Homo sapiens: one gene and its partner. The protein of the gene in region 1 purifies or fractionates together with the protein of each later gene. This does not show direct contact. Each region holds a gene or a part of one and is shown on either strand. Other genes may lie near its edges.

Region 1 (3,815 bases):
GCCACGAGTTTTGTATATAGGACAACAGGATTACCGGAGAGCCAGGTGGATTGGAGGTTTGATTATACAGCTGAGGACTCTGGGACACTACAGCCGCTGAGGTGGTGGTCACTGCTGTGCCTGATGATAAACACAAGTGTTAGGGAAAGCCAAGGCACTGAACGCCAACCCAAACATCTTTATTTGTAATGCCCAATCTAGCCTTCTTCTGTCATTGTATATGTCAGTTCTTCATAAGCTAACTTCCACTAAGTACCCTGGAATCTGTGACATTTTCATTTTCTTATAATTCTACTAGATGTGATATACAAAGTTAAGGATTCTGTATCATGGCTAAGAAAAAGAGAAGAGGCCGGGTGCAGTGGCTCAGGCCTGTAATCCCAGCACTTTGGAAGGAAAAGGCGAGCCGATCACGAGGTCAGGAGATTGAGACCATCCTGGCTAACACGGTGAAACCCCGTCTCTACTAAAAATACAAAAAATTAGCCGGGAGTGGTGGCAGGCACCTGTAGTTCCAGCTACTTGTGAGGCTAAGGCAGGAGAATGGCGTGAACCTGGGAGGCAGAGCTCACAGTGAACCGAGATAACGCCACCGCACTCCAGCCTGGGCAACAGAGCGAGACTCCGTCTCAAAAAAAAAAGAAGAGAAAAGGAAGAGAAGAAAGGATCTATATTTGCTCTGGGGTTGAGAAAGATTTAACTCACAAGGCTTTTTAAAGCCTGAAACAAAAATTAAAGCCAAGGCTTCTTAGAGTAGCTCTTCTGATTGATGTCTGAGCACCAGTCTCCAGGGCCACATCCTCTCTGCTCACCTGAACTTACGTGGGCACTCACGACTCCAAACACAGAGAGGGGAAATACAGAGTTGAATTCCAAGAATTAAACTCATCACAACATGGTCTCTAAGACCTTGTATTAACTCCTGGTGTACACAAATAACCGTATTCTTCCCCAGAACCTTGGGTACATGATGACAGCCCTGAATATGCCCCCTACATTCTTTTTTTTTTCTTTCTGAGACAGAATCTCACTCTGTCGCCCAGGCTGGAGTGCAGTGGCGCAATCTCAGCTCACTGCAATCTCTGCCGCTCGGGTTCAAGCAATTCTCCTGCCTCAGCCTCCTGAGTAGCTGGGATTACAGGCGCCTGCCACCGCACCTGGCTAATTTCTGTAGTTTTAGCTGAGATGGGGTTTCACCATGTTGGCCAGGCTGGTCTTGAACTCCTGACCTCGTGATCCACCTGCCTTGGCCTCCCAAAGTGCTGGGATTACAGGCGTGAGCCACCGTGCCCGGCCATGCCCCCTACAATCTTACAGAGAAATGGACTTGTAGCTTTTGGTCCAGTTAGGACATTTAATCATATTTCTTCAACTGTAAGTGCTTAAACAAAAGGTAAAAGGGAGATGAAGTTTACTACCTGATGCAGATGATGCATCAGATTCCAATCCTCCAGCTTGTTGTTGATAAAACTGCTGATAATCCTGTGAATACTGAAGAAAAGTCCACCATTAAAGCTGCTATTCTCAGACACACTCTGCAAGACTATAAGGTGGATGCTGCTAAAATCTACCTACCTGAGCATATTGGGCATAGCCATCTTGACCTGGTTGCAGATAACTGTAGTCAACACTGCCTCCTTCACCACTTTGAGACTACAAAACATCAAAATGAGACAAAGACAAACTTAGTAGGCATTAAGGAAAAAAATTCAGAAGTCCCTAAAAATGAGCTCATGATGCTGGGCGCTGTGGCTCACGGCTGTAATCCCAGCACTTTGGGAGGCTGACGTGGGTGGATCACCTGAGGTCAGGAGTTCAAGACCAGCCTGGCCAACGTGGTGAAATCCCATCTCTACTAAAATACAAAAATTAGCCAGGCGTGGTGGCAGGTACCTGTAATCCCAGCTACTCAAGAGGCTGAGACAGAAGAACCACTTGAACCTGGAAGGTGGAGCTTGCAGTGAGCCAAGATTGCACCATTGCACTCCAGCCCGGGTGACGAGAGTGATACTCTGTCTCAAAAAAAAAAAAAAAAAAAAAAAAAAAAAAAGAAAAGAAAAGAGCTCATACTGCGAGTACCACAGGAGAGGTCACGTCTGTGAATCTGGGCACCACCACCACACTACCTTGAGCAAAAAGATCCTCGATCTTACCTGGGTGGATGACCACTGAGCAGCAGCAATAGCCGTACTAGCTACAGAGAAAGCGCTGACGCGGTTACCATCTGAGAGGACCAAGTCTCTGAAACCACAAAGATCCAATCATGTGATTCTATCACAGTATTCCCACAATTAGTGCCCCTATACCACCAACTGATTCACTCCACCCTTTGTCAGTTCTCAAATGCCAGCAAGGCCACATTTCACAGGGGGAGGGCTCTTCATGGGGAAATTCCTCAGTAAGCAAGTGGCCCTGTAGTATCATTGTTCTACCTTGTAACCTGCCATCTAACGAAGAGTTTTTTGAATGTGCAATGATACTAAAAAAAGGGAAATTTACCGTGTTAGAGTTAAGCACTATATACATGAAATTATTAGCACGCTGTTCTGGAAGGAATGGGTTATTTCTGGATGGGTTAGCACTATACTGCTGCAGTTTGCAAAGCATGTGTTCTCAACCCATCTGCCATACTTGCCTTTCTCCTGATCTGAAACCATTTCAGGCAACTTCATCAACTGGTTACACAGGACAGTAGGGAATAATCACTAAAAGAAGACAAACGTGTCCCTCCTGGCCTTGGCAATCAGGGAGGATCACAGTGTCTCAACATACTTGGGGCACAGGCTTGGCGTTCAGTTAGCACACTGTACAAATGTGCATATGCAGTAGTTTGAAATAAGGACAATGAAGCCACTCACTTTCTGGCACTTTTTGCAAAATCAACCCCAATAGTTTTGCCATCAATTTTCAAAGGAGGATGGAGACTCTGTAATATCTGAAGCAGCTGAGAAGCATCCTGAAGGAGAATGTGAAGGAAAAAAACGTGTAATGCAATTAAAAATCTCTCCCTACCATCCACCCCATTCAAAGAAGTAGTTTTCTATTAAAAAATAAAAGGCAATTAATTCCTTATTGTGTTTGCAGATATGAAACCTCAAGAAAGGAATATCTCTCTTTCCTCTAAGATGTGAAGGTTTCCAGTATTACCAAAAGAGCAAATGCTAAACCAATCTAAAACAAAGTACATCTAGCACTTGGGAGGCTGAGATGAGCGGATCACTTGAAGTCAAGAGTTCGAGACCAGCCTGGCCAACATGGCAAAAACCTGTCTCTACTAAAAATACAAAAATTAGCTGGGCGTGGCTGGGCGCGGTGGCTCACGCCTGTAATCCCAGCACTTTGGGAGGCAGAGGTGGTGATCAAGACCATCCTGGCTAACACAGTGAAACCCCATCTCTACTAAAAATACAAAAAATTAGCTGAGCATGGTGGTGAGCGCCTGTAATCCCAGATACTCAGGAGGCTGAGGCGGGAGAATGGCGTGAACCCTGGGGAGATGGAGCTTGCAGTGAGCCGAGATCACACCACTGCACTCCATCCAGCCTGGGCGACAGAACGAGACTCCCTCTCAAAAAAAAAAAAAAAAAAAAAAAAAAAAAAAAAATAGCTGGGCGTGGTGGCGGGCACCTGTAATCCCAGCTACTCAGGAGGCTGAGGCAGGAGAATCGCTTGAACCCTGGAGGCAGAGGTTGCAGTGATCCGAGATGGTGCCACCGCACTCCAGCCTGGGCGACAGTGAGACTCCATCCCAAAAAAGAACAACAACAACAAAAAACAAAGTACCAAGGACTAAACTGTGGCTCAAAAAATTCTGC
Region 2 (3,815 bases), on another chromosome or scaffold:
AGTAGGGTGGGACCCTGCCAGCCTCCCTCCTGCCTTGGCTCTGGGCACATGTCAGAACCAGATAAAGATGCCCTGGTCTTGGGATGGCTCCTCAAGTGCCACCCACCTCTCTCTGCCTCTCAGAATCCACGGTCCAAAGAGTGCCAACTTGTGGTGACTTAGCCCTGCCAAGACCTTTGGCCCTGGCAGGAAAACCAGATAAAGGGGGCAAACAAGCTGTCAGGATGAGCATTGGTTTGTGAGAGCAGTGCCGGAGCCGTGTGTGTGCCAAAGCTCTGCCTGTTTTTGTGCCAGGAAAGGCTCACGCCACAGCCTCACCCTCGCCACCCACAGCCTGCTGGCTCAGTCACCAGATGCGTGTTTCTTCACATGGTGTTTGGTCCCCAAGTGACAATCTCTGTCTTTTTTGTAAGGTTTCCCTCTCAGCGCATTTAACCGCTTAAACCCTTTATCTCCTTGAGAATCTGAAATAATTGAGGAGTGGACAGTTACTAGTCAGATGAAAATACCAGCTTTGTGGTGAGTAATAGCAGACTAGAAAAATGCAGCTTGCCTTGTAATCAGAGTAGGCCCTCTCTCACCTCCCCAGCCCGCCCTGGGGACGCATATGGGCAAGTCGGGTCTGCACAGAAGCCATGTGAGTGTTGCTTAGAGTCTAGCCTCCCCATCCCTACCCCCCTTCGAGCACAGCAACCCACACTTCACAAGCTTGGACCACTGGCCATCAGCTGGCCAGTCTGTGTCCTTCTTATAGTGGGGTTTGGAAAGAATGAATGAAAAATAAAGAGAATGATGCAATTTCCTCCCCCATTATTATCTTGTTGAGAGTTTTCAGTTATGGACCGGCAGGGGGAGGACAGTTTCTGCTTCCATGTTGGTCTGGTGTCCCAAAGACGCTAAAAACAAACCCACTTGCTTTATTTCAGTGTAAGAGAAAAAAATTAGAGATTTTTCATCTGTTGGTCTCATTAACCAAAATGAAGTGAGCTGAGTTGGGTATAACCTAGGGTGTCTCTCTTGAGCTCTGAAAAGTGTGAATTCTCGTTTTCCCCAGGTTGCCGATATAGAATCTGGCAGACAGATTCAGCTGATCAACCGAAAGTCTCTGCGATCTCTCACTGCCCAGTTGCTGGTATTGTTGATGTCTTGGGAAGGAACCACCCATCTTTCTGTTGAGGAGCTCAAGAGACATTACGAAAGTACCCACAACACTCCCCTTAACCCCTGTGAATATGGATTCATGACCTTGACCGAACTGCTGAAGAGCCTGCCATACTTGGTTGAGGTAGGCACGTTAATGGCTCTTTAGAACTATCATTGAAAACTATCGATTGGGCATTTCCGGATTACCTGATGGTCTAGATTAGAGTGTGTAGAGCTGGAAGGGACCCGAGAGACCATTTCATGGATGAACACGCCGAGACCTCAGGCAGTGAAGCAGCCCTGCCTAAATGGGTGGCAGAAGCCAGTGAAAGCCTGGTCTCCTCATCCTGGCACTGGGGTGTGTTTGTCCCGTTCTAGGATGAAAGCCTGGTCTCCTGATCCTGGCTCTGGGGTGTGTTTGTCCCATTCCAGGATGGATTTCGCTACTGTTTTATCTTTCTGAATGAGATGGTTTATGTGGTGGCTTGAAGAGAGAGATGAGTAAGGTGAGGGCAGAAAGGAAGGTTGGCCAGCCAGTCCCCCAGGCAGCCTTTCAAGAATGGCGCTCCAAGATTGAGAGAATCTTAAGAGAATACTGCATGCAATTCTCGGGCGACAGATATAAAAACCTAGAGTAAATAAATGAAATCCTGGAAAAAATAAGTTACCAAAATTCACTCAAGAAGTTAAAAATTAGACCAATTACCATAAAAGAGACTATAAAAGATCACTGAAATATACCAGTGAAAAAGGCATCAGGACCAAGTGAGATAACAATTGAATTTCAACCAACCCTAAAAGAACAGATAAATCTACCTTTTAAAAAACCATTCTGGGGCCCGGCAAGGTGGTACACGTCTATAATCCCAGCTACTAAGAAGGCTGAGGCTAGAGAATCACTTGAGCCCAGGAGTTTGAGGCCAGCCTGGGCAACATAGCAAGAACCCATCCCCAAGAAAAAAAATACTGTTCTAGGCTGCTGAAAAAGAAAAAAGGAAAGCTTACCATTTATTTTTACGAAGCCAAAATAAATTTAATACCAAAAACATAAGATAGTCCCTTAAAATGATCCTAAATAAGATATTAACAAATGAGCTCCAGCAATTTAAAAGAATGATATGCCATTATCATCTAACTGTGGGACACATCATTAAATAATGAAAGGATATACATCCAGCATTTTCTAAACTCTGTTAATATCTATCCTAAGAACACCAGTTCTGGACAGGTGTTAATGCATATTTCAGGACAAAGGACTTTCCCTGTCCAGCTAAGATTGGGAATATCCTTTCTCTTGGCGATTCCATAGCATGTTAAACACTTTGAAAAGGTTTGTGGTAAAGAAATCTGCTTCCTTACCCTGCATACACAAGGGTTTTGTGTTTGTTTCTTGTTGCTTTTGATGTGTTTTTAAAGAATGCTAGTGTCATCCTCTTATCACAGTGTTTCTTGGAAAACTGGTTTGGAGGTGCAGTTTAATGGCCCCAGTGTTCACTGTGTGTACCGTGATTTGCCAACACAGTTTGCCTCCCCCGATTTCTTCCCTACTCACACACTGTCTCTTCAGACCGCTGCAGCCTTCGACTTGCAAATAGAACTGAAGTTTGCTGGAGGCTATAGCCTTCTCTTGGAGGAAATCCTTGAATATATCCCTCCTCCTTTTCTTTCTCCTCTTCCTTCTTTCCTTCCTCCTCCTCCTTTCTTCTTCTTTGTCTTTTTTGTCATCTTCATCTTCTTCATCTTTGTCTTTGTCCAATTCGTCGTCTTCGTCTTCTTTATCGTCGTCTTCGTCTTCTTCATCGTCGTCTTCGTCTTGTCTTCGTCTTCTTGTTCTTTGTCTTCATCTTTGTCGTCTTTATCTTCGTTTTTGTCTCGTCGTCTTTGTCTTCATCTTCTTTGTTGTTGTCTTCTTTATCTTTGTCGTCTCCTTCTTCTTCGTCATCTTTGTCTCCTTCTTCATCTTCATCTTCTCATCTTCGTTGCCTTCTTTTTCTTCTTTGTCTTCGTCTTCAACTCTGGGCCTTTTCCCTCAGTGGGAGGCCTTCACTTTCCACGGGGCAGGGCCAGTCACTAATATTTCTAATGCTGCGTTTTCTTTTTAACCAGGTTTTCACTAATGATAAGATGGAAGAATGTGTGAAGCTCACAAGTCTGTATTTGTTTGCAAAGAATGTGCGGTCTTTACTTCATACTTACCACTACCAGCAGATTTTCCTTCATGAGTTTTCCATGGCCTATACCAAGTATGTCGGAGAAACTCTGCAGCCCAAGACCTACGGCCACAGCAGCGTGGAGGAGCTCTTGGGAGCAATTCCACAGGTGGGCATTTTTCTCAGCTTCCGGGAGAGCATCTTCTGAACAGCCACAGGCTAACTGTCCTGAACAGAAAAATAAAATGCTGCCAGAATAATGGAACGGCAGGCATTTTGAATTGATCCTTTCAAAACATACTGTTGGTCTAAAGTAAATGATTTTAGCATTTCTCCTTGATTCTTTCTGTAAACCTTTATTAAATCCCTATATGCCAGGTGAGTAAGTTTCAGGCTGTAACTCTAGAAAGGTGTTGGTTAATGGGAGAGTCAAGACCCCCAAGCAGGCAACTAGTCAGGGCGGTCAGGGCAGTGGGCGCGCTGAGGAGGGCCGTGTCAGGGCCCACTTCCCAAGCCTGGGGA

The links.
Region 2: the proteins of RBM5 (region 1) and MARF1 purify together in Homo sapiens (affinity purification with mass spectrometry; one large-scale study listed by BioGRID and IntAct). This does not show direct contact.

The regions. Positions count from the first base shown.
Region 1 is NC_000003.12:50,105,908-50,109,722, reverse strand, and holds part of RBM5 (RNA-binding protein 5), read right to left. Parts: intron 2,957-3,815; coding exon 2,859-2,956; intron 2,242-2,858; coding exon 2,154-2,241; intron 1,654-2,153; coding exon 1,576-1,653; intron 1,492-1,575; coding exon 1,419-1,491; intron 121-1,418; coding exon 35-120; intron 1-34. UniProt on the Homo sapiens protein: Component of the spliceosome A complex. Binds to ssRNA containing the consensus sequence 5'-AGGUAA-3'. Regulates alternative splicing of a number of mRNAs.
Region 2 is NC_000016.10:15,601,638-15,605,452, reverse strand, and holds part of MARF1 (meiosis regulator and mRNA stability factor 1), read left to right. Parts: intron 1-1,054; coding exon 1,055-1,285; intron 1,286-3,249; coding exon 3,250-3,462; intron 3,463-3,815.